Homo sapiens: one gene and its partners. The protein of the gene in region 3 purifies or fractionates together with the protein of the main gene of each other region. This does not show direct contact. Each region holds a gene or a part of one and is shown on either strand. Other genes may lie near its edges. The genes, in order: PGM2L1, USP47, KIF22, HMGXB4, SFMBT1, UTP4 and ZYG11B.

Region 1 (2,618 bases), on a different chromosome or scaffold from region 3:
TTTGGTTATTTTGTTAATGTTGTCATTATATTTAAGACTTATTGTAGGAAGTAATTTTAAATCTATTTCATAACCTGTTTTGATCTGTCTGCATACTGCTATATGTTAATTTATTACGGCCTTTTACAATTCACTTGTCATCTGAGATTGTTCTAGAAACTGATGAGGAAAGAGTCGTACTAACCAAAATGAATGGGCAATTGACATAACATTCTATTTCAGGTTTCCTTGTACTTGGGGAGCCAAAGCACAAGATCTAAGGAAATCTTATTCACATTTGTCCCTCAGAGCATCTTACCCTAAGCCATAGAGGTATAAATAGTAAGATGAGAATTGCTCATTGTCTGACTCCTTGCACAGCATGAATTTAATTCTAGTTGGAAACAAAGTTAGTGTTGACTACTGGTTACCTTAAAGTATTCACCATACTATATATTTATTAGACCATCTTTCCTCTTTGTTTATTCAAGACTATGTACTTATAAAAGAGAACCTATAAGAATGTGTAGAGTGACCAAATAGGGACAAAGTGACATACCTAGAGTTTGCTGCTCAAATTTTTCCACTAGCGTAACCCTAAAGCAGAGGGGCATGATGAAGGGGGAAGGGGTTCTGAGAGCAAAATCAGAATCAGCCTACCACTGACATGAAGTGTGTTCTGTCTTTAAAATGTAAGTGAATTTTGCATTCTTTATAATAAAACTTTTAATATAAAAATGATATGTTTAATCTTTACTGAAACTTATGCCACCACAAAGGAGCACCATGTTCATCACGTGGCTGCTCAGTTTTCTCCCCCAGTGCCCTCACCCCCAGTGGAGGCAAGTCCTTGAGCTACACACACTGGCTGTAGTGCAAGATATATAAACATAGGCCGGGCTCGGTGGCTCATGCCTGTAATCCTAGCACTTTGGGAGGCCGAAGCAGGTGGATCATCTGAGGTCGGGAGATTGAGACTAGCCTGACCGACATGGAGAAACCCTGTGTCCACTAAAAATACAAAATTAGCCGGGTGTGGTGGCACATGCCTGTAATCCCAGCTACTCGGGAGGCTGAGGCAGGAGAATCACTTGAACCCAGGAGGTGGAGGTTGTGGTGAGCCAAGATCGCGCCGTTGCACTCCAGCCTGGGCAACAAGAGTGAAACTCCATCTCAAAAAAAAAAAAAAAAGATATATAAACATAGAACATATCCAGACTATTTCCTGCCCTTGGAATCTGACCTTCAGAAGGATTAATGCCAAACTAAACTGACCTGAAACAGTTTTGTTACTATTGGCATTCCTTGACTAAAAAGGACCACCTGATGCTCAGTCCCGAGAGTAGGAATCGTGGTTTATTATTTTTCATATCCATACCACCTAGTTCAGTACCTGTTATAGAGTGTTTAATTGCTGATACTAGGAATTAAGGGATTTTTTAAAAGTAGCAAATAGTTTAAGGAACAATCAAAAAATGAATTTTCTAATTCAGTTTTTTCAATGAAGTCCCATCACTGAACTTTATAATGTAATGTTTATTAAGCAGACATCCCCTTAAATACTCAGTTTCTTTGGAGAGAGCAAAGCATATCTCTCTGTGGAAATTATATATAATGCCTGGTATTTTACACTCAAAGCAAGGTGTTGGCCAGGAAGGTAAAGAAATGGTGTCTATGTAGACTTAATATCACTAGTCTAAGTGTCATTTTGAGCCTAGTAGCACTACCTTCCAAGTGAGTCACAACAAATTTGATCCTATTTGGTATGTTTTTGTCCACTGTTATGATTCATCATGTATCTTACAAGAGCCACTCAAGCAAGACTCTGCTTCTATGTATGGTGAGGCCTTGTTGTTCTAGGCTAGAATAAACTCTTTGTATGCCTCATTGAATATGCCAGGTAAAATTTATGCAGTCAAGAATGAATTATTTTTCTGACTAAAGTGTGTAGCAGTAGTTCAAAATTGTGCCCTTGTTTTAACAGTTTCTGTCAACATCTTCTCATTTTTCCCTACAAAAACACCAGGGTGTATTATAAGTACTGCCTGTGAGAATTTGCACTTTATGTATTTGTGTGTGGATTTCTTGTGGTTTTAGCCAAATGAAGTGTTATCAGTAATAAACAGGTCTCTTCATAGGCATGAGTTTCTGTGTAATTTTTATTTGAGATACTGTGTAGTTCATAAAGCTTGCTATCTAAACAGGAAATACTCTTGAAATACACACATCACATACCCTAGAATCCACTTTGCATCTAAATGAATATTCTGGCTTAGTACTCAGGAAATATTTCTTGATTGGTTTATCAGAAGTCCCAGATGTGAGAACTAACATTAACATTCTTATTTTTCTTTTCTTTTTCTCTCCTTAAGCTGATCTAATTTGTTTGCCCATGTTAGCGCCAGCTACTATAATAAGACAAAAGTTTAAAGTTTGGAAATCTCTCACGGTAATAACCGTAGATCTATGCTTCAATACTGATGAAGGACTGAGTTTCCAAGGGTTCTTATGAATCTGTGGTCCTGGTCTCTGTTGCCTGCCTTTCCCAGATCAGGCTCAAAGGGAAGATGACTGAAAGGAATGTTCTACGAGGTCCTTTTGTCAGCTTCTAAATGGAATATTCTGAGAACCATGCCGAC
Region 2 (3,500 bases), on a different chromosome or scaffold from region 3:
AAAAAGTCTATATTTTGACTTCTGTATATGACTTCTAACAATTTTGCTAAAGTAATAACCAAGAAACAAATCATTTTGTGAAATTATATTTTATGATTAAATTGCTTGTAAATGCATACTATGTTGGTATAATATACTGTATATTACATTTTTAAAATATGAATGACAAATGTAAAAAAAATTAGTTTAATAAGCACTCACACATAATACAAAAGAAAGAGACACAGTAGTTTCTTCCCCAAGAAGTTAATAATCTTACTGAGAAAAATATGTCTATAGAGAATAAAGGCAGTCACAAAACATCATGTAAACAAATACAGTATTTTTAACCAGCCTGCTTAAGAATTAGGTATTTATAACTGATGACCTTAGTTGCATTGAAAAGAAATTGTGTTTTTTAAATGTAAAGTATTTTTATCTGCTGCTTTCATGTCAATTTATAAAATGACTCCAAAAATTAAAGATGTGGACTTTCAGAAAAACTTAAAATTTTCCCTACTAATCTTCTCATTTTACACAAAGGAAAATTGCTTATTGCTTTAATAAAAGTATTAAAAACTATTCACAGACTATAGAAAGGCCTGTCAAAAGCCAAGAAGTTCAACATTTTGATATCAGCAGTCAAAAAGTCAGTTACGCAGTTTCTTTGGAATCAGATCACTCATTTACTTGGCAAGTTTGAGAGCAATAGAGATTCTAGGAAAAAATCCTTACCTTTAAAATAGTTTCAGAGCATACATTTATAAATGGTACTTTGTTCTCCTGATTTGCAGTATAATTTATGGCTATAAGTAATTTTTCCCTTCAATTATTCAAAAATTTTAAAACCTCTACTAAAATTATGTTTCTCTCTGCTGCTTTTAAGAAGAACTCAGCAGTGTCTTGCTTTCCCATATTTTTAAGTCAAGCAGAATTATTTTTGAAAGAGTACTTTTTATTAAATTGCTTTCATTATAGGCCATCCATTTACCTGCTGAAACAATGAGAATAGTGCTGGAACGCTGCTACAATGATTTGCGTCTTCTCAGTGTCTCCAGTAAAACCCTGAAAGCTGAAGGATTTTTTAGAAGTAACAAGGTATGTCATTTACTTTTTCATTACTATTTTCTATGCTGGTAGTAGTAAATGAAATTAGGTTCAATATTATAAGCCTGGCCTCCACAGCTGTTCAACATCTGTCTGGAACTTAATTTAAAATTCTCAACCCAGTAATTACCTTCCTTTGTAGTCAGGTCAGGTCAGGCTCCCTTCTGTCCTGTGAATCAGTCCTACTGGTTCTCCTCTTCTTTGCCTTTGTTCATGTGCACTCCCACCTGGAGTGTTCTTCCTCCTCTCCCTGCATTTTTTTTTTTTCAGTCTCCAGATTAGTCCTACCTCTTTGGTGAAGACTTCATAACCATTTCTTCCCACAGTGATTATGTCCCCTGGATTGTGTTTATTCTTGAGCTTGTCCCATAAAGCAGTGCTTCATGGTGAGGGTCAGAGGCATACCTGGTATAGAGAAAATTATAATCTTGAGTTCACCCAACATTATTCCTTTTGCCTACTTATTTTTCTCTGTTGGAAATGAGAAAGTTCATGTTAATCCTCTTCTTTTGTCTTGCTATTATTATGTGTTTGATCATTTATCATTTTTCATATGTGTTTTTATCACTCTAGTCTCATTCATCTTAGTACAGTCTAGTCTTTTATCTCATTTAACTTTTTTAGTATTTTATTACTAATATGTAATTTTTATTCACCTACACTTCTAAAACTTTTGTGTGGTGGGGGAGGGGATGTACGTGTATATGTGTGTGTATATGTAAAACATTAAAATTTCTAATCCCCTCCAGTACATTACTTTAGGGTAAGAAGTGCAGTAGGGAAACTTTTCTTTTTCCTTAAACGGTTAGCGTACTGGTTTCAATTTGTAACATTTACTGAATAGGATAATGATAGTGTTATCCTTTTATGCAAAACCCAACATGCTATTTATAATTGCCAAATTTATGCCAAGTACGAATTTCATTTTAAAAAAAGATTTATTATGGAAAATTTCAAACGTAAACAAAAGTAGAGAAAATAGGGAAAATAGAGTGAACCCCCACACATCCCCATCTCTCAGCTTCCACAGTGATCATCTCGTTTCATCTATAATTTAACCACCTACTTCGCCCAGATTATTTGATAAACTTCCTCAGGATCATATCATTTCATCTATAGATAATATGAACATATATATCTAAATGAAGAGAACTCTTTTAAAAAAATGACAATTACATTATATACCTAAGAAATACCTTAATATCAGTCAATATCTAGTCAGTGTTCAAATTTCTCTGATTGTCTTAGAAAATTTTTTTCTGTAAATTTTCCTGTGTCTTTTTTGTTTGCTTCCTTGCAGTTTGTTACAAAGCCAAGTCATTTGCCCATTAAATTTTTCCATGATCTGGATTTTGGTGTTATATTCACAAGGTGTCTTTACACATGTTCCTGTGTCTGTAGTTCAGGCTAAACTTGGATTTCCTAAAGGTGAAAGATTTCTACAATCTAAAGAAAAACCAGAGTATTAATTTCCTAAAGAGAAGGATATATAATACACAACTTTCTGAAATTGGACAACCCAATAAACAAGATGTTTGTGTGTATGTGTATGTCCATACCGTCTATCTTAGTGTAGTTTTATGGCTAGTTACAAAGACATTTGAGCCTAATGTTCATTTTATTCAGTCTCCAAAACAATAGAGTCCTTCAGAAACTATATCATCACACATGTTATAACATAACTGTGTATTGTGTTGTATTGATGCAATATAATGATGATGATGAATGAGCATGTCACTAAAATTAATATATAATAAAACTCTGACTTACTATGTAGGTGTTTGTTGAAAGCTCCGAGACTTTGGATTACCAGATGGCCTTTGCAGACTCTCATTTATGGAAACTCCTGGATCGGCATGCAAATACAATCAGATTATTTGTTTTGCTACCTGAACAATCCCCAGTATCTTATTCCAAAAGGACAGCATACCAGAAAGCTGGAGGCGATTCTGGTAATGTGGATGATGACTGTGAAAGAGTCAAAGGACCTGTAGGAAGCCTAAAGTCTGTGGAAGCTATTCTAGAAGAAAGCACTGAAAAACTCAAAAGCTTGTCACTGCAGCAACAGCAGGATGGAGATAATGGGGACAGCAGCAAAAGTACTGAGACAAGTGACTTTGAAAACATCGAATCACCTCTCAATGAGAGGGACTCTTCAGCATCAGTGGATAATAGAGAACTTGAACAGCATATTCAGACTTCTGATCCAGAAAATTTTCAGTCTGAAGAACGATCAGACTCAGATGTGAATAATGACAGGAGTACAAGTTCAGTGGACAGTGATATTCTTAGCTCCAGTCATAGCAGTGATACTTTGTGCAATGCAGACAATGCTCAGATCCCTTTGGCTAATGGACTTGACTCTCACAGTATCACAAGTAGTAGAAGAACGAAAGCAAATGAAGGGAAAAAAG
Region 3 (2,567 bases):
AGGAGACAGGTGGAGCCTAACATAATTAAGGGCTTTCTGTGATTAGGGGGCTACCCAGAGGTGGAACAAGCCTCTGCAAATATTGAAGGGAAAGGCTTTTCAAGCACAGTCCTCAATTAATTGAGCTGGGCTTTAGGAAATGTAATGTTTAACATTTGTTGCTTTTACTTTGAACTTTTTCTTCTCACCCTCACATCTGGTCTCAATTGTCTGTCAAAGTTCAGCCATGTTAAGGACATTCAAGCAGAAGCTGGAGAACTTCCGGTATTGGGAGAAAACTGGACTCTAGTCCAGCCTGAGTGTCCTTCCCTGTCTGAAGATCCAAGGATTGCTTCTCAAGGCCAATAGGAATCCAGCTCCCACATCCCTAAAACACGTACCTCAATCTCTAGGTCCTTCTCTTCCACTGTCTTCATTAGCACCATCCGCTCTCGCTTTGGGGTACTCAACAGAGGGGCCCCCTGGCTCCCCTGGGAGGCAAGCAGACGGTCCAAGCTGAGGAGGCGCTCCAGCATGGCCGGGTCCATGCTGCTTAGCTTCTGTAGGGGGCTGAGCAGAAAAAGAAGTTGCTCCCCACCTACCTCCTCCCTCATCACCACCTACAGCAGCAGGACTCCCCTCACCACACCTTAACTTGGTATATCCTGTAGCTCCAGAACCTAATGTTAACTTGCTAGGCATCCAGTTTCTCTGGGTGCAGTGTCTTCATCAGGTGAAGTGACTGCTCGGGGATGCCAGGAAATCAGGCGAACACTTGAGTGCCAGGTATGAGAGACCTAAGACACTGCCCTGCCCTGGAGGCACTGTCTACTGAGGAAATCAAGAGACCATAATAAGGTGACAGCCAGGACAGTGCCTATCCATTTGGAGGAGCAGTTGCGGAAAACATCACAGAGGATGCCATCTTTAGCAGGGCTTTGAAATCCACCGAAGACCTCAGCTGCCAAGCTTCCCTGCTGTGGGCAGCTGGGAAGGCCTGTTCAAGCAGTCCTGACTGACTCTGAGCACGGTAAGGCTTAACATTCTTTTTTTTTTTTTTTTTTTTTTTTTGAGACAGGGTCTTGCTCTGTCACCCAGGCTGGAGTGCAGTGTTGAGATCACAGCTCACTATAGCCTTGGCCTCCTGAGGCTTAAGCAATCCCCCTGTCTCAGCCTCCTGAGTAGCTGGGTCCACAGGTGCATGCCACCATGCCCAGCTAATTTTTTTATTTTTTGTAGAGATGGGGTCTTACTATGTTGCCCAGGCTGGTCTTGAACTCCTGGGCTCAAGTGATCCACCCACCTTGGCCTCCCAAAGTGCTGGGATTACAGGTGTGAGCCACTGCGCCCAGTCAGCAACGTCTAACATTCATTTATTTTGCCTGGAATCTTGCCCCACACCTCCTCACATCTGTATCAATAATCTTTCCAGGTCAGTTTGATGCCACCTTTCCCATGACGCCAAGCTTAACAATGCATCTCCCTTCCTATGCTGTGAACTGGCTCCTGGAGGACAGGGACACTCCTGTGCTTTCCATGCTAGTGCCTTGGAAAAACAGGATCAGAACATACGTGGGCAAACACTAGAAGTCATCTCTTCCTTCCTGACTCTCACAGCAGCAGCAGCTACTCCTTCCTGATTCTGAATTCTCCACCTGGTATCATATACTGATGTTCCCATCTGACTTGCTCTCCTGTGAGGCCCCCAAGCTCTGGGTCTGCTGGGTTTGATGTGCCCAACTCTGAGCTTCCCCTTACTCAGAGTGCCTGTCTGACAGCTTACCTGTGCACATTTCTGGGTGCACACAGCAGTGGGGAGTGCTGACAGATGGTTTGGGAAAGACAAGACTGAGAGATGGGGTCATGAGTGCACAAGCATCTTCTTGTGTGTGGCATCTTCCTTAACTACAGTAGCCCCCTGGGACAGAGTGGGCACTAACCCTTGGCCACCTCAGGTCACCTCTGTTTAGTAGTTCACAGGCTTTATTTGGGCTAGGGGTAGAAACAGGGCAAAGTTAAAACTGCAACTGGCTCCTGGGGGGTGGAGGGAATAGCGCAAGGGCTAAGTGGCCAGACACAGAAAGCAAGACCCCTGAACAGAGATGACCTGAGGATTAGTACATACTGGGCCATGAGGTGGGGTGATTGGAGTTGGGGCAGGAGGTGACACAAAGGACTTAGTTTAGAGGCTTTATCTGGATTGAGGGTAGACGCAGTTAGGACAGCAGCTGGCTCCCCGGAGAGTCATGGAGAAGCTGGGCACTGACACACAGACCAGATGGTCTCAGCAGGACAGCTCTTCCAAGTCTCCTTTGCTTTGCTCTCATGGATCTGAAAGATCTGATCCAGATCACTCCTTGAACCAGAAGCAAAAATGCTCATCCTTGAAACAGCTGTCCCAAAGTGAGAAGTTTTGCTGAAGGCTAAAGGGGTTGGAAAATGGAAAGGATCCCCAGGAGGAGGCCTCCTTAGGTCCCCAAGGCAGCAGCACTGAGGAGAGATTAATCTTAGACTTTAGTGATTCAATGGAGTAGAATTTGGGGGGAATTTATTTATTTACTTATTTATTTATTGAGATGCAGTCTTGC
Region 4 (3,500 bases), on a different chromosome or scaffold from region 3:
TAATGTCTTCCTATACTATCCATGTCTTCCCCGCCCCTCCTAGATACCCTGTGTCAAACAGGAAACTTCCACAGATACAGAAGAGGCATGGTACAATGTTCTAACACATGAAATCAAGTTAAGATTTCTGTTCCTCTTGATTTTGGTTCTCAAACAATCCTGTTTCTCTGTATTCCCAATTAAATCTTAAAACTGCTCTGAGCTGAGAAAGGGATTCAGCAGCCAGACTACCTTTAAGCAACATAGCCCTGTGACAACACTGGTGGGGAGAAGGGAAGAAATTAAATAGGATGCAGATGGGCTACACTGTCCCCAAAGATTTACTTTGATGCTGTAGTGCTCTGTCAGGGCCAGGAGAAGAAAGCACAGTTAACTCAGAGCTTGGTGTTGGCAGAGAATCTCATACCAAATTTAAAAACCATCCTGAAGTGCTCAACTGTCTTCTTTCCAACTGGGAAACAAACGTCTGGTTCTCTGGAAATAAGGGCAGCTGGGGATGGTAACATTCCTCTTTATTTTACTTTCTAGACATTATTGAAGCCCATGAAGTTCTTTATAAAGAATTAGAATCCTAACACAATGATTCATTTTTGAGGTAAAATACCTTAAAATGTAGATGATTCAGAGTTTTTGGAACAGACCAGGAGGAAGGAAGGAAAGAGGGAAGGAAACAGGGAAGGAAGGAAGGAAAGAAGGGAGGGCGGAAGGGAGAAATGACAAATCTGTATCTTCCACATGCTGTTGCTGGTGGAGGCTTCTGTTATTAAATTATATATACAGAAATTTACAGGATAAATTAAAATCTAAGAGATTTTAAAGAGTTAAATACACATAATTAAAATACACATTCACACACACATAAATAAACCTACAAGAGAGTGAGTTTTGTTTTGTTTTTGCAATTCACTTACATGTGGAATGCAGAACACTGTGTATCTGCCCACCAGGGGAACTGATAAGATGAACCCAAAAATCATGCTGGGCAAAGTTTATCCATAACCACCGAGCAACTAAGCAGCACGGCTTGTGAGGACTTGGTGGCTAACTTCATGCTGCCAGTGAAAGACACCAGCACTTAATTCTGCCGACTAAAGATTCTGGGTTAGCTCAGAATGTATGGAGGTCCAACTGGTGGCATTGACAGCTTCACCCCCCAAGGTGTTTTTTGCTGCCAGGGCTCACAGAACTCCTTGGCCTCTGTTGAGGCCACCAATGGTACCAATGATTACAATAAATTTTGAGACACAGACACCTATACAGTAGGAATTGGAATGAACCCTCTACTCAATTCACCTAAGCCACTTCCATAACTATAAAGGGAACAAATTTTATCACCTCCCACCTAGGTCACTTCAAATTGAAAGGCTTTGAATTTTCAGTCAACTGGCATCTTCCCGTTATCTTTCCTATTACATTTCAGACTAAGACAGGTAAGGCAAATGGTCAGTGATGGGTCTGGAGGTCCAACTGAGCTTGGAAAATAATCACATTTTAGCTGTCCATAAAGAGATGCGCTTGGCACCCAGAACAAGCCCCCAGCCCCCAAGTTACATTGATTTTTAAGGCAGATTTATCCACCACAGGAGAAAAAAGAATCCCAAGCCTGTATTCATGCCAAAATTTCCTCTTGGCTAAACCTTTGCCATTTCATAAAATTATTAAAAGCAAAGTAGTTACAGTCTATGTATATATTGTACATTATATATATATGTATATATGTATGTATAGATATAAAAATTTAAAACCTACAGCCAGAGGCCACTGAAGGAATCTGCAACAGTCATATATACACAAACCAGCAATGGTGTAGGATAAGGTTTCTGTCCCAGGATTCTTTGCTGTCACAGTCCCGGCATGATGTAAGCAATGTTGTCTAATGTGTTTGACTGCAAAACAAAGAAAAATGTTCAACTGAAGAGTACTGTACCTTGGTTTCCTGAGAGATGTTTCTTTGTTCAAGGAGAGAGATAAGAAAAATCAAATGGAGTTAGAAAAACAGGTGAGAATGAAGACGGCATCCTGCTGTTTGTTATGCTAGGAACTTTTCTGCTGACTTCTCCCATTAATCCTCGTAAAAAAGAGGGAAACAATTCCTGTACTGTCTTTGGGTGCAGAATAGCAAACAGGAAACACAGGAATTGTAGTACCTCAAGGGCTAGAATGCTGCTTTCTTAAGTACTGTTTTGGTAAATGGCTTGTTTTCTAGTTTCAGTGAAAGTACAGCATGCATTTGATAATATAGCATCATGTTCCATGGGCCAACAGATGAAGGAAGCACTGTGTGTCACAAAGCCTTATGTGTGTCTGACAGTGCTCATTAAGGCAGGGCATCTCTGACGCCCAATGGATCTGACTCTAAAAATCCAGGGAAAACTCACCAAGACCTGTTTGGGACAGCCATTCAATTCAGGTAGTTGTGTGGTGAGACATGCCAAGGGGCCAAGGGCACAGATAATGGAATCCAGAAGCACTGACAAACTGCCAGACACAGCCACCATACCCTGAAAAGGAGAGGAGGTTGTTGCTTGAGTCACACTCCTGATGCTGTGTTCCGGCTGACTTCCTCACACAGTACTTTAAATCCTAGGCAGTTCTACTCTTATAATTTGAAACTTTACAGCAGAAATGGAAAGTTTACTTTGATAACTCTGTAAGTTGTTTAGAAAGAAAACTTTTACAGCACATTCCCATGTTCCCTTTCCGTAATCCTAGCCCATCTTCTTACCTTCTGAGTGACCTTGGGGAGTTCACATCCTTAACTTCTGTCTCCTTAACAGGAACAGTAAAAAATGCTTTACCTACTCTGGAGAGCTGTTGGTAAGATTTGTGATTATGTATGCAAAGTATATCTGTTATAAACTCGACAAATATAGCTCAGATGTGATTACTATGAGAATCCTACAACCCTGCATGTATGTAGCTTTTGATAGCTGATTATACAATTTTTCTAGGTTGAGTTGTTCACTCTCAAAGTGAATTTGGTTCAAATTTTAACATTTTATGTAATTCATATTGTCTATTTGTGATTCAAAGAGATAAGAAAGACTGTTGCTGCTGCCGAGTTCTTGTATAATCTGCTTTAACTAGAAGCAGTGTGAGAATATGTCATATTGGGAAGCAACACAGCACAGTCCTTAAGAAAATGAGCTCCGGATTCAAGACTGCCCGGGTCCAGATCCTGGCTCCACTACTCACTGTTTTGTACCTAGGCAAGTTGCTTACTATGCTGTGCCTGTAAGATACTAACAGCATCTGCAGCAGATGGGATTGAGATAATAGATATAATATACTTGGGATGGTGCTTAATACATGGTTAAGTACTCAAAAAATATCAGTAATTATGAATATTACTACCAACATCTTGATCTTCAAAACTGCATTTCTGGCTGTCTTTTGGGTCTCTCCTTTTGGATATTTCTCCATCTCAACTTCCTGTAAGGAAGAATAACCTTCCCATGCAAATCTAGCCCTCCTTTGAGCATCCATTTCTCTGCCAAAGT
Region 5 (3,500 bases), on a different chromosome or scaffold from region 3:
AAGGAAGTGGGGTACAGAATAGATAAAATGGTTTAAAACATAGAGCATGCCCTCAAAGCAGTGCTGACAGCAACTCTGAGGAGCTCCATTTATGCAGAATCCACTGGGAAGGCTGCCCCAAGAGCCAGCCGCCAGTCCTGCCTGGGAGGAGAGGGAAGCAGAGAATGTCCAGCTATCCTGCCGTGGGACAGGATGCTGGCCCTTCACCCCTACTCCACTAGGAGGACTCTCATTTTATTTTACTTATCGGGCTTCCTAGAAAGATTTCATTTGAACAAAGGGTTCCACAACTTTAAAAACACTTGAAAACCAAGGAGTCAGAACTGTACGTTCTAACTCCAAGGCTGGCAATTGAAGAATAAGACCTCAAGTCCCACAGGAAAGCTCCCAGTGGACAAAACAAACACCATCGCTGAGGAGCAATGTAAAGAAAGAGACCTGGGCAAACAGGCCCACTAGAGGACTGGCGTCTTTGGGGTAGAAGGAGAAATTCTATTTTGGACCTGTGGATTCTGAGATGCCAGTGTGGCACCCAACTTGGAAGCCCAACGGGCAGGGATGTAGGGGTCTTAGAGGAGCACAGGAGCTAGACAAACTCTAAATGTGGACAACTTCATTGAGAGAGATGTAAATAGAAAGAAGGGAAGGTCTTAAAAGGTTACAGAAGGCAAAGACAGAAAGGTCTGCCTCAAGACAGGTCTTTCTGGAGAACCTGAATTCTCCTCCAAGGTAGTCTATATCCAGGAGCAGAGAGAGGCACTGGCTGGAAGGCTGCAGGTGGCTTACGGGGCCACAGAAGGGAAAGAGGGAAAGAACAAAGTGGATTGGCTAGGGAGCAGCTCAAAGATTAGACAGTGGGTCCAGGCCTGATGGGGCTGGGACTCTGGGAGAAAATGAAGGTCACAATGAGATAAAAGACGAGGCATAGGGAGAACAGGGAATCCTCTGAAGGAGGCTGTAGAGAACCCAACATTTCACCAGCACACTATTCCGGAAAGCACTCCTGTCAGACAAAGTCAATAGAAAGCCAAAAACAGGAGTAAAAGTCAATGGCTAGGAGAGGAGCTAGGGTGAGGGCAGTTGTGTCTTACCGCCCTGACTGGCTGCGGGATCATGCAGCCCTCCTCAAGCACTTGCTGCAGAAAAGGAAGACTCTCCCTAGAAGGGGAGGCCAGAAGAGACCACCCAGCCCTCTGCTTCCCTTGTCATAGCCATTCCTGAGAATGGAGCCTGACAACAAAGAAAGTCATTTGAAGCTCTTCTCTGTTGATTGAGGAGCCCAATTGAATACTTACAGGAAAACTGGGTACAGATAATGCCTAGGAGAAGATCTAAGCCTGTTTCCCAATTTGCATATGGTGTTATTCATATTAACGATAAAGAAAACTACGTATTTTTAAGTGCAACTATAACTTGATTGAGGACTGGAAAGCCAACATTAAAAGAGAAATAAAATTAAATTAATATTAATTACATTAAGAGATCAAGGGATTCAGATGTTTTAATACCATCATAAACACCTATAACAACAATAATACACCCGAAGTTTCTCAAATTTCTATCTTTAGCTAGACCACCCAACCCTGCTCATTTTGCTCAATGATAAAAATGAAAACCAGGCTGGGCATAGTGGCTCATGCCTGTAATCCCAGCACTTTGGGAAGCTGAGGCTAGAGAATCACTTGAGGCCAGAAGTTTTGAGACCAGGTTGGACAACACTGAGAGACCCCATCTCTACAAAAAATGTTTTAAAGGCCCGGCGCAGTGGCTCACACCTGTAATCTCAGCACTTTAGGAGGCCAAGGCGGATGGATCGCCTGAGGTCAGGGGTTCAAGACCAGCCTGGCCAACATGATGAAACCCTGTCTCTACCAAAAAATACAAAAAATTAGCCAGGCATGGTGGCAGGCACCTGTAATCCCAGCTACTCGGGAGGCTGAGGTAGTAGAATCACTTGAAACCAGGAGGCGGAGGTGGCCAAGATTGCACCGCTGCACTCCAGCCTGGGCAACAAGAGCAAAACTTTGTCTCAAAAAAAAAATGTTTTAAAAAATTAGCCAGGTGCTGGGGCATGCACCTGTAGTCCTAGCTACTCAGGAGGCTGAGGCAGGAGAAGTGCTTGAGCCCAGGCACTCCAGTTTAGACAACTGTCTCCTACCCTGTATCTCCTCCCCTAACCATTGACTTTTACTACCGTGGCTCTATGCTCTATTAGACAACATCATGCCAAAGAAACTGATACTTTCTCAGAAAAGCCTTACTAACTCTAGGAAACAACTAACCATTCTTAAGAATTGAATAGTAACACAACGCACAATAAAAATCAGGCTTCATGACATTTACTGTCTATTCTTCAATGGTTTCCAGAAAGTCAAAAACATCCTTGCCATGAAGAAAGGACAGTAATTAAGAGATGGCCTCCCCCCGGTAACAAACAGTATTAGGAAACTCATCCCACATTTACTACATTAATACAGCCATTAAAAATAATAATGGAGGAAAATATAACTCTTTAACCATTCTGAAAGTACATACCTGCTCAACTCTCTATTACCCTTAACTGTCAAACCTGCTTTCTCTCCAACCAGGATTGGACATCTATATTTCACAAATACAGAATTAAAGTGATACAGCAAATCTAAAATACAAAGCATTAATTAGGTGGTATCATTATTATGTAAGTCATTAAGCCTTTTTAAACACGTACTAGTTTTCTATCAATACAGAAACAAGAGTGAAATATGGCAAAACCTCAACTAACCAGAACAGCTGGGGATTGAGTCACTGAATATGCCTTTCAGATAGGTGAAGGCTTATTTACAATTCTGAACACACATATTTTTTTGGTTAACTGTTCTGGACGACATGCTTTGACACAGGCCCACACCACGAATGTCAGTGATCACACAGTAAGATGGCATCCTGAGACCCAAAAGGCCTTACTCCTTACTCAATGTTACCCTGGACTCCTGCAACCTTTGCTTTTATGTTCTCCTTGTCTTCCACCCTGCTGTCACAATCTGCTCTGTTTCTTTTGTTCGAATAAGCAAGTGTGCCCAAACTGTATCTAAGGACAAGGTACCTGGTTCTCTAGGCTCTGCTGGGCACATACGGAGTTCTTCCAAGGGAGGTAAACAAATCCTAGCAAACAGTATTCTGTGACCTGACCTCCACTTTACCTGCTGTGGAAGTCTTTCAAATAATTTACTTCCTCAAAAAAAATTCTGACACATGCTACAACATGGATGAACCTTAAAGACATTATGTTAAGTGAATTAAGGCAATCACAAAAGGATAAATACTGTATGATTCCACTTAGATGAAGTACCTAGAATAGTCAAAATCATAAAGACAGAAAGTAGAACAGTGGTTGTCTAGGGTGGGAGGAGGGGAGTTGGGGAATCCCTGTTTCATGGGTACAGAGTTCCAGTCTGGGAAGATTAAAAAAGTTCTAGAGATGGATGGTGGTAATGGTTACACAACAATGTCAATGTACTTAA
Region 6 (3,500 bases), about 39 Mb from region 3:
CCAGAGAGATAAAACAGAAGTTATTACTTCCTCAGGCCTAAGACACTGCTTACTACAGGAATAGAGAATGACGGCAGCATCTGCCACTAAAATATATACTTTAATTGTTTCAAACTCCTTTCCTACCAAATGGTTTTTTTTCTGTTTTTTGTTTTTTTTTTTTTGAGATGGAGTCTAGCTCTGTCACTCGGGCTGGAGTGCAGTGGCGGATCCGCTCACTCCAACCTCCAACTCCCAAATTCAAGTGATTCACCCGCCTCAGCCTCCTGACTAGCTGGGATTACAGGCACCCACCACCATGCCTGGCTAATTTTTGTATTTTTAGTAGAGATGGGGTTTCACCATGTTGGCTGGGCTGGTCTTGAACTCCTGACCTCAGATGATCCGCCCACCTTGGCCTCCCAAAGTGCTGGGATTACAGGCGTGAGCCACCGTGCCTGGCCTCTTTCTTTTTTCTTTTTTTAGACGGAGTCTCACTCTGTTGTCAGGCTGGAGTGCAGTGGTGCAATCTCGGCTCACTGCAACCTCTGCCTCTCGGGTTCAAGCCATTCTCCTGCCTCAGCCTCCCAAGTAGCTGGGACTACAGGCGTGCACCACCACACCCAGCTAATTTTTGTATATTTAGTAGAGATGGGGTTTCACCATTTTGGTCAGCATGGTCTCGATCTCTTGACCTTATGATCTGCCCACCTCGGCCTCCAAAAGTGCTGGGAGGTGTGAGCCACTGTGCCCGGCCCCTAAATTTTTTTTAAGCCAAAATTATGGACAGGCCAGGCGTGGTAGCTCACACCTGTAATCCCAGCACTTTGGGAGGCAGAGGTAGGTGGATTACCTGAGGTCAGGAGTTCAAGACCAGCCTGGCCAAGATGGTGAAACCCCATCTCTACTAAGAGTACAAAAAAAAAATAGCTGGGCGTGGTTGTGGGTGCCTGTAATCCCAGCTACTAGGGAGGCTGAGGCAGGAGAATCACTTGAACCTGGGAGGCAAAGGTTGCAGTGAGCCGAGATGGCACCAATGCACTCCAGCCTGGGCACAAGAAACTCTGTCTTTTGAAATTCTATCTCAAAAATAAATAAATTAATAATAAAAAAAAAAGTTACGGACAAACAGCAAGTTCAATAGACTTGAAGCATATCTTTAATTTATTGGATGCCTGCTGTGTATTTAGCACTAAGGGAGGATGGGCACGTCTGAGCCATCTTTGTCATCTAGAGACTTTAAACCAATCTGGCAACACGACAACTAGTGTGGGATAAAAATTGGACAGTGATGCTCTATGCCAAAATGCGTGCTGCATGTAACGCCCCCAAACGATAACATGGCTTTATAACAAGCATAACCCAGCTGCCAAAGGATGGGTGGGGATGAGGAAAAAAGGATGGGGAACAGTGCAAGCTAAGTGACGAGGAGTAGAATATGCAGGTTTGAGAGCTGTGAAGAAACCATTTTGACTACAAGGGGAAGTGAGATGAGAGAAGTGGAAAAAATAAAGTCATATACATAATGTAGAGTCGAATCTCAAGGAGAGCTAGATATAAGATAAATAGCCTAAGTTTTGTAATAAAAACATATATAGATAATAAATAGTTTGATTTATCTGACCCCTAACTTGTGGGTTTCTTCTCCTGTAGGCTTCTGGATCAGCTTATGAACAGTGAGAGTTGAAGATAAAAGAGTTGACTTTCACTAGGCATGGTGACTCACACCTGTAATCCTAGCACTTTGGGAGGCTGAGGCAGGAGGATTGCTTCAGCCCAGGAGTTTAAGACCAGGATGGGCAACATGGTGAAACCCTGTCTCTACAAAAATACAAAACTTAGCTGGGTGTGGTGGTATGCTCCTGTGTACTTGGGAGGCTGAGGTGGAAGGATTTTCTGAGCCTGGGGAGGGTGAGGCTGCAGTGAGCCATGATCGCACCACTGCACTCCAGCCTCGGCAACAGAGTGAGGCCATCTCAAAAAAAAAAAAAAAAAAAAAAAAAAAAAAGAGTTGACTTTCCAGGCTGATGGGAGTGTAAATGACAGTGAAGCAGCAGCTAAAATCCAGGACAAGGGAGAGGTGAAAGGCCCATAGGAAGTATCAAAACAACTACCAGCTTAATCTGGAAACTGAGTCCAAGTCCTTAACAGTTAGCCATAGCTAGCTACATAGCCACACTCATTCATTAATACTCACATTCTCAATGAAAACAGAAAAATTCTCAGGAACATTATATGAACACAGGTAATTAAACTGTATGTATAAGAATACTTTTGGGCCAGGCACAGTGGCTCATGCCTATAATCTCAGCTGGGAGGGCAGGATGGGAGGATCACTTGACCCCAGGAGTTCAAGACCAACTTTGTCAACATAATGAGACCCCGTCTCTACAAAAAAAATGAAAAAATTAGCTGGGCATAGTGGTGAGTGTCTATAGTCCCAGCTACTCAGGATGCTGAGATGGGAAGATAACTTGAGCCCAAGAGGTCGAGGTGGCAGCCATCTATGATTGTACCTTTTTATGAACAAACAACCAAAAAAGGCAACATGCCCACAAAATACTTATATACAAATACATATTAGAAAATACCAAAATATTAATGGTAGCTATTTCTGGGTGTCAGGATTGCAAATGACTTTAACTTTCTTCTTGTTCTGCTAACAAACTAAGGATGATGAAATTTCTCTGGCCCCAAATAAGGAATCAAAAACCCAGTGAGAAAAGAGTAGGTGTGAAGAACATTGCAGATCTCATCGAGAGTCTTCATCTGCCAGCTATCTCCTCCTACTTGAAACAGCAAACATGTGAGTGAGTGTATCTGCAGGGTAGGAGGAACATGAGGGAACCCCCGACATGGAGGCTTAAAAGCAAAAAAGTTACATCTTAGACACGACAAGTCTCCCCATGGCCAGTTACCAGATTCCCACCTGACTGAGGCTGGAAAGCATGCAGGTGCTTGAAGCTTCCTCCTGACAGCTGAACAATATGCAGAGCTCCTTGATTTGATGCTACAAAGAGCTTTGTTGAATCTTCAGAAAACAAAATCTGAAGGGCAGAGCGAAGGAATGCTGGCATTTTGGAAACCTTTGGGTGAACCAATAATAAAAGCCAGTGAGAGAAGGGAGACCTACAGCCCATCAGAAACAATCACAGCTAGGCTTAAGGTACATTAATGCTTCCTGTCTCTAAGTAAGCCAACTGACTCGGCACAGAACACTGGTTTCTCTCCAGTAATCTATACATCCCCCTTTCATCTCTTTACTAAATATTCACTTCTCTATCAAGGAAATAACTAAGTCGCACGTGAAACCACTAAACAGAAAAGCTTTAATTTTATTGCCTGTAGGGCATTACCCTATCCCTCTAAGAACATACCTCAAAATTTCAAAATGGAAATAAAGGCTGGGTGTGGGCCGGGCGCAGTGTCTCATGCCTGTGATCCCAGCACTTTGGGAGGCTGAGGGGGTGGATCACCTGAGGTCAGGAGTTCAGGACAGCCTGGCCAACGTGGTGAAACCC
Region 7 (3,500 bases), on a different chromosome or scaffold from region 3:
AAACCCCGTCTCTACTAAAAATACAAAAACTAGCTGGGCATGGTGGCTTTTTTGCACGCCTATAGTCCCAGCTACTCGGGAGGCTGAGGCACGAGAATCACTTGAACCCAGGAAGTGGAGGTTGCAGTGAGCTAAGATCGTGCCACTGCACTCCAGCCTGGACAACGGAGTGAGACTCTGGGGAAAAAAAAAATTAAACTTCCTACTTTTTTTCTTTTTGTAGAGACAGAGTTTCACTCTGTCGCCCAAGCTGGAGTGCAGTGGCACAATCATACCTCACTGCAGCCTCTTGGGCTTATGTGATCTTACCCCCTCAGCCTCTGGAGTAGCTGGAACTACAGGCTAAATTTCCTACTTTGTAAACATCAGTAGTGGCCAGATACTTCTGAGTCTTAAAAGCATAATAGGCCGGGCGCGGTGGCTCACGCCTGTAATCCCAGCACTTTGGGAGGCCGAGGTGGGTGGATCACAAGGTCAGGAGTTCAAGACCAGCCTGGCCCAAATGGTGAAACCCTGTCTCTACTAAATATACAAAAATTAGCTGGGTGTGGTGGCGGGCACCTGTAATCCCAGCTACTCAGGAGGCTGAGGCAGGAGAATCGCTTGAACCTGGGAGGTGGAGGTTGTGGTGAGCCAATATCATGCCACTGCACTCCAGCCTGGGTGACAGAGTAAGACTCCGTCTCAAAAAAAAAAAAAGCATAATAATTTATTACATCCCAAATATATAAAAATTTGAGTGCCTTTGCAGTTGGGATGGTTCCTAAAATTGCGTATAGAATTAAGGCACAGAATTGTGTGTAAGGTCCTGAATCTGGCTAAAATACAGTGGATGTATGTATTGGAATTATGAGGCATAAGTAGCCAGTATCTATAGTTAGAATCTACAAGGCCTCCTTTTTGCACCTGTAGACTAGAATATAACTGTTATTGGTGCCTTTGAGTGTTATCTCTCAGTGGCTAGAGGTGCTGTTTCAAGCACAATTTAGACTAGGGTTGAACCACTCATTGTTCAAATCATTGGTGGGCTCCAATGTAAAATATCACTACATCAGTCCACAAGCAACATTAAGGAAATCTAAAGGAAATGGAATTTGACTTTTTAGAGTATAATGATGTTCTAGGGCATAATGAGGAAAATTTTTAAAAAATAGATTATAATGATACATATTGGTATCATTAAGACAACAGATTTGAGCAAATACAATTAAGGTGTCTTATTTTTTGCATCAAGTAATTATTGCTGTGGTCTTTCTACTCCACAAAATAATTTTTTCTTTTTGCAGTTGAAAATTAACTGCATTATTAACTAATTAATAAAATAAATCAAGTGGTATAAGGGATTAGTTTACCCTCAAGCCGATGACTCCATGGCTACTGATATTAGTTAGTTTAGGATTTTTAAAAAGCATATCAGACCCCCAGTTTCAGGAATTGAGTATAAATATTGCTTCTTGTCACCCTGGGACAGTAATGCCTTATAGTGGCACTAGTCACCTTAAGTAGATTACACATGGTTGAGGTGAATAAAGCTGCATGGGAATTTGCTTTCGTGATATATTTCATTTGCAAACTTCTACATAATCAAGTTTTATGTTTAAAACCATCGGTTCTATATATCTAGCTTTAGGAAGTTGCCCTTACAGGTGGGACCTTTTGTGTTAATCTGTTTTCTCCCCAGTCATCTTATTTGGCTATGTTAAAAAAAAAAAAAAAAAAAAAGCGAGAGAGAGAGATGGTGTCTCACTGTGTTGCCCAGGCTGGTCTCGAACTCCTGGCCTCAAGTGACTTTCCCACCTCAGCTTCCCAAAGTGCTGGAATCACAGGCATGAGCCACAGTGCCTGGTCTTAGCTGTGTTTTTAATTATGCCATGCATCAACATAACACCGGGCCATCTTCCTATCCCTTCCTATCCCATATGTTTAATGAAAACATATTTTATGTGCTAAATTAGGTTAATTTACCAGAGATTTAGCTTAGTGTTTTTAAACTATAGAACAATACCCCTATAGAACAATGTACAGCTGCACCCAAGGTTAAAAAGAGGTAGCAGGGAAAACAAACTTAAACTCTTTGTATATGGTGAAACCCATCCCTCTCCTGCCCTCTAATGGTATGTTTACATTATTTCGTTATTATACAATGTAGTGGTATAAACAGTATTATTAAACTGAAGGCATAAGTTAAAGGAAGTATGTTACTTTGAGCTGATGTAGGCTCTTCCACTTTTATCTGTATTTTACTTATTTGGGGACTTTGTATTGCTAGGGCTTCAGAATACTAACTTTGACACAGCTCCCAGAGAGGTTTGCAAACTTTTGGTTTCCCTCTCAAATCCATGGTAGTAGTTTCAAATGAGTTTGTGGATAATGGATGTTTAGTCCTTATCATTTGCTGTGTTTTGACAGTTTTTAATTTGCAGTATTCACTCACGAACTGTTTTATTTTAGGAATAATGCAAAACCAACCTTCGTCCGGTGATGAGAATAGCCGTATGATAAGAGAATTTGCTCATCGTGCTTTAAATGATTAACTGTTTTACCTTATTTAGTATTTCATAGACTTTGCATGATATGGTACACTCCTAATTATGCATTCTTTGGTTTCCAAATCTTAATCTAAGATACTTTGTTAACTGACTGGTAGCCTAAGAAAGAGACTTTTCTTCCTGTTTTTCTCTCTCCCCATTTTTTGGGGTAAGTTTTGCAAAGATCAGTGCTGCTTCTCATGACTCTAAAGTAAAGCTCTTTTGGATAGCACAGCCTAACTTTACAGCTAGACAGAATGGCCATTAAGAATATTTCCAAAATCCAAGTTTATCAAAATTATTTTGTGGGAAATCATCAATCTATTTTATTAATGTTATGTGTTTAATTTTGGACTTATTTTGGGAAAAACTGTTCAAATTGGGTCCTTTTAAGCTTATTTTAAGCAGCCTAGAAGGAAGAAGCTACTTAGCTAATGAAAGCTGAGACACTTTATTAAAAGCAGGATCTTAAGAGCATTGTTTTTCCTTAAAAACTTTATACTCTCAGATAATCTGCAACAACAAAAATTAAGAAATCCCTGACTTTTGTAGAATTCCCACTGTCAAATTCTCACTGACTTATGAGTGTGAGAGAAGTTATCTTTTGTTTGAATTCTGATAGAACAGTTTAACTCCTTTCTAAGGATATAAAAAATTCATTGGAAAGTGTGTATATTTCAAAGACTCTCAATTATCTGGACTGAAGGCACTGTTCTCACTATGGCCAGATGAATGGGAGTATTCTGTACATGAATCATGCTGTATTTTAAATCAGGACATCACTTAAGTATTAATGTTGTGTGTACAGATTTTTGTTTTGGGATTTTTTTTGCCTAAATAAATGTTATAAATTTTATGTAAAGTGTGTCTTGTCTACTTTTATTCTAGACATTTGGCTTTAAAAGTTAATATTAATGCAAACTTCAAATTCCTTAGTGATCCACTTGTAATGATTGCTTTCTGAAAAAGGCT

What was found.
Region 1: the proteins of KIF22 (region 3) and PGM2L1 purify together in Homo sapiens (affinity purification with mass spectrometry; one large-scale study listed by BioGRID and IntAct). This does not show direct contact.
Region 2: the proteins of KIF22 (region 3) and USP47 purify together in Homo sapiens (affinity purification with mass spectrometry; 2 studies listed by BioGRID and IntAct, with this or other methods). This does not show direct contact.
Region 4: the proteins of KIF22 (region 3) and HMGXB4 purify together in Homo sapiens (affinity purification with mass spectrometry; one large-scale study listed by BioGRID and IntAct). This does not show direct contact.
Region 5: the proteins of KIF22 (region 3) and SFMBT1 purify together in Homo sapiens (affinity purification with mass spectrometry; one large-scale study listed by BioGRID and IntAct). This does not show direct contact.
Region 6: the proteins of KIF22 (region 3) and UTP4 purify together in Homo sapiens (affinity purification with mass spectrometry; one large-scale study listed by BioGRID and IntAct). This does not show direct contact.
Region 7: the proteins of KIF22 (region 3) and ZYG11B purify together in Homo sapiens (affinity purification with mass spectrometry; one large-scale study listed by BioGRID and IntAct). This does not show direct contact.

Annotation. Positions count from the first base shown.
Region 1 is NC_000011.10:74,329,816-74,332,433, reverse strand, and holds the end of PGM2L1 (glucose 1,6-bisphosphate synthase), read left to right. Parts: 3' UTR 1-2,118; downstream 2,119-2,618. UniProt on the Homo sapiens protein: Glucose 1,6-bisphosphate synthase using 1,3-bisphosphoglycerate as a phosphate donor and a series of 1-phosphate sugars, including glucose 1-phosphate, mannose 1-phosphate, ribose 1-phosphate and deoxyribose 1-phosphate, as acceptors.
Region 2 is NC_000011.10:11,939,472-11,942,971, forward strand, and holds part of USP47 (ubiquitin carboxyl-terminal hydrolase 47), read left to right. Parts: intron 1-957; coding exon 958-1,077; intron 1,078-2,863; coding exon 2,864-3,500. UniProt on the Homo sapiens protein: Ubiquitin-specific protease that specifically deubiquitinates monoubiquitinated DNA polymerase beta (POLB), stabilizing POLB thereby playing a role in base-excision repair (BER). Acts as a regulator of cell growth and genome integrity.
Region 3 is NC_000016.10:29,800,751-29,803,317, reverse strand, and holds part of KIF22 (kinesin-like protein KIF22), read right to left. Parts: exon of another isoform or gene 2,516-2,567; intron 550-2,515; coding exon 381-549; intron 1-380. UniProt on the Homo sapiens protein: Kinesin family member that is involved in spindle formation and the movements of chromosomes during mitosis and meiosis. Binds to microtubules and to DNA. Plays a role in congression of laterally attached chromosomes in NDC80-depleted cells.
Region 4 is NC_000022.11:35,291,993-35,295,492, reverse strand, and holds part of HMGXB4 (HMG domain-containing protein 4), read right to left. Parts: intron 2,502-3,500; coding exon 2,379-2,501; intron 1,887-2,378; coding exon 1,842-1,886; 3' UTR 1-1,841. UniProt on the Homo sapiens protein: Negatively regulates Wnt/beta-catenin signaling during development.
Region 5 is NC_000003.12:53,036,074-53,039,573, forward strand, and holds part of SFMBT1 (scm-like with four MBT domains protein 1), read right to left. Parts: intron 1-3,500. UniProt on the Homo sapiens protein: Histone-binding protein, which is part of various corepressor complexes. Mediates the recruitment of corepressor complexes to target genes, followed by chromatin compaction and repression of transcription.
Region 6 is NC_000016.10:69,156,649-69,160,148, reverse strand, and holds part of UTP4 (U3 small nucleolar RNA-associated protein 4 homolog), read right to left. Parts: intron 3,066-3,500; coding exon 2,909-3,065; intron 1-2,908. UniProt on the Homo sapiens protein: Ribosome biogenesis factor. Involved in nucleolar processing of pre-18S ribosomal RNA. Part of the small subunit (SSU) processome, first precursor of the small eukaryotic ribosomal subunit.
Region 7 is NC_000001.11:52,823,953-52,827,452, forward strand, and holds the end of ZYG11B (protein zyg-11 homolog B), read left to right. Parts: 3' UTR 1-3,384; downstream 3,385-3,500. UniProt on the Homo sapiens protein: Serves as substrate adapter subunit in the E3 ubiquitin ligase complex ZYG11B-CUL2-Elongin BC. Acts to target substrates bearing N-terminal degrons for proteasomal degradation with the first four residues of substrates being the key recognition elements.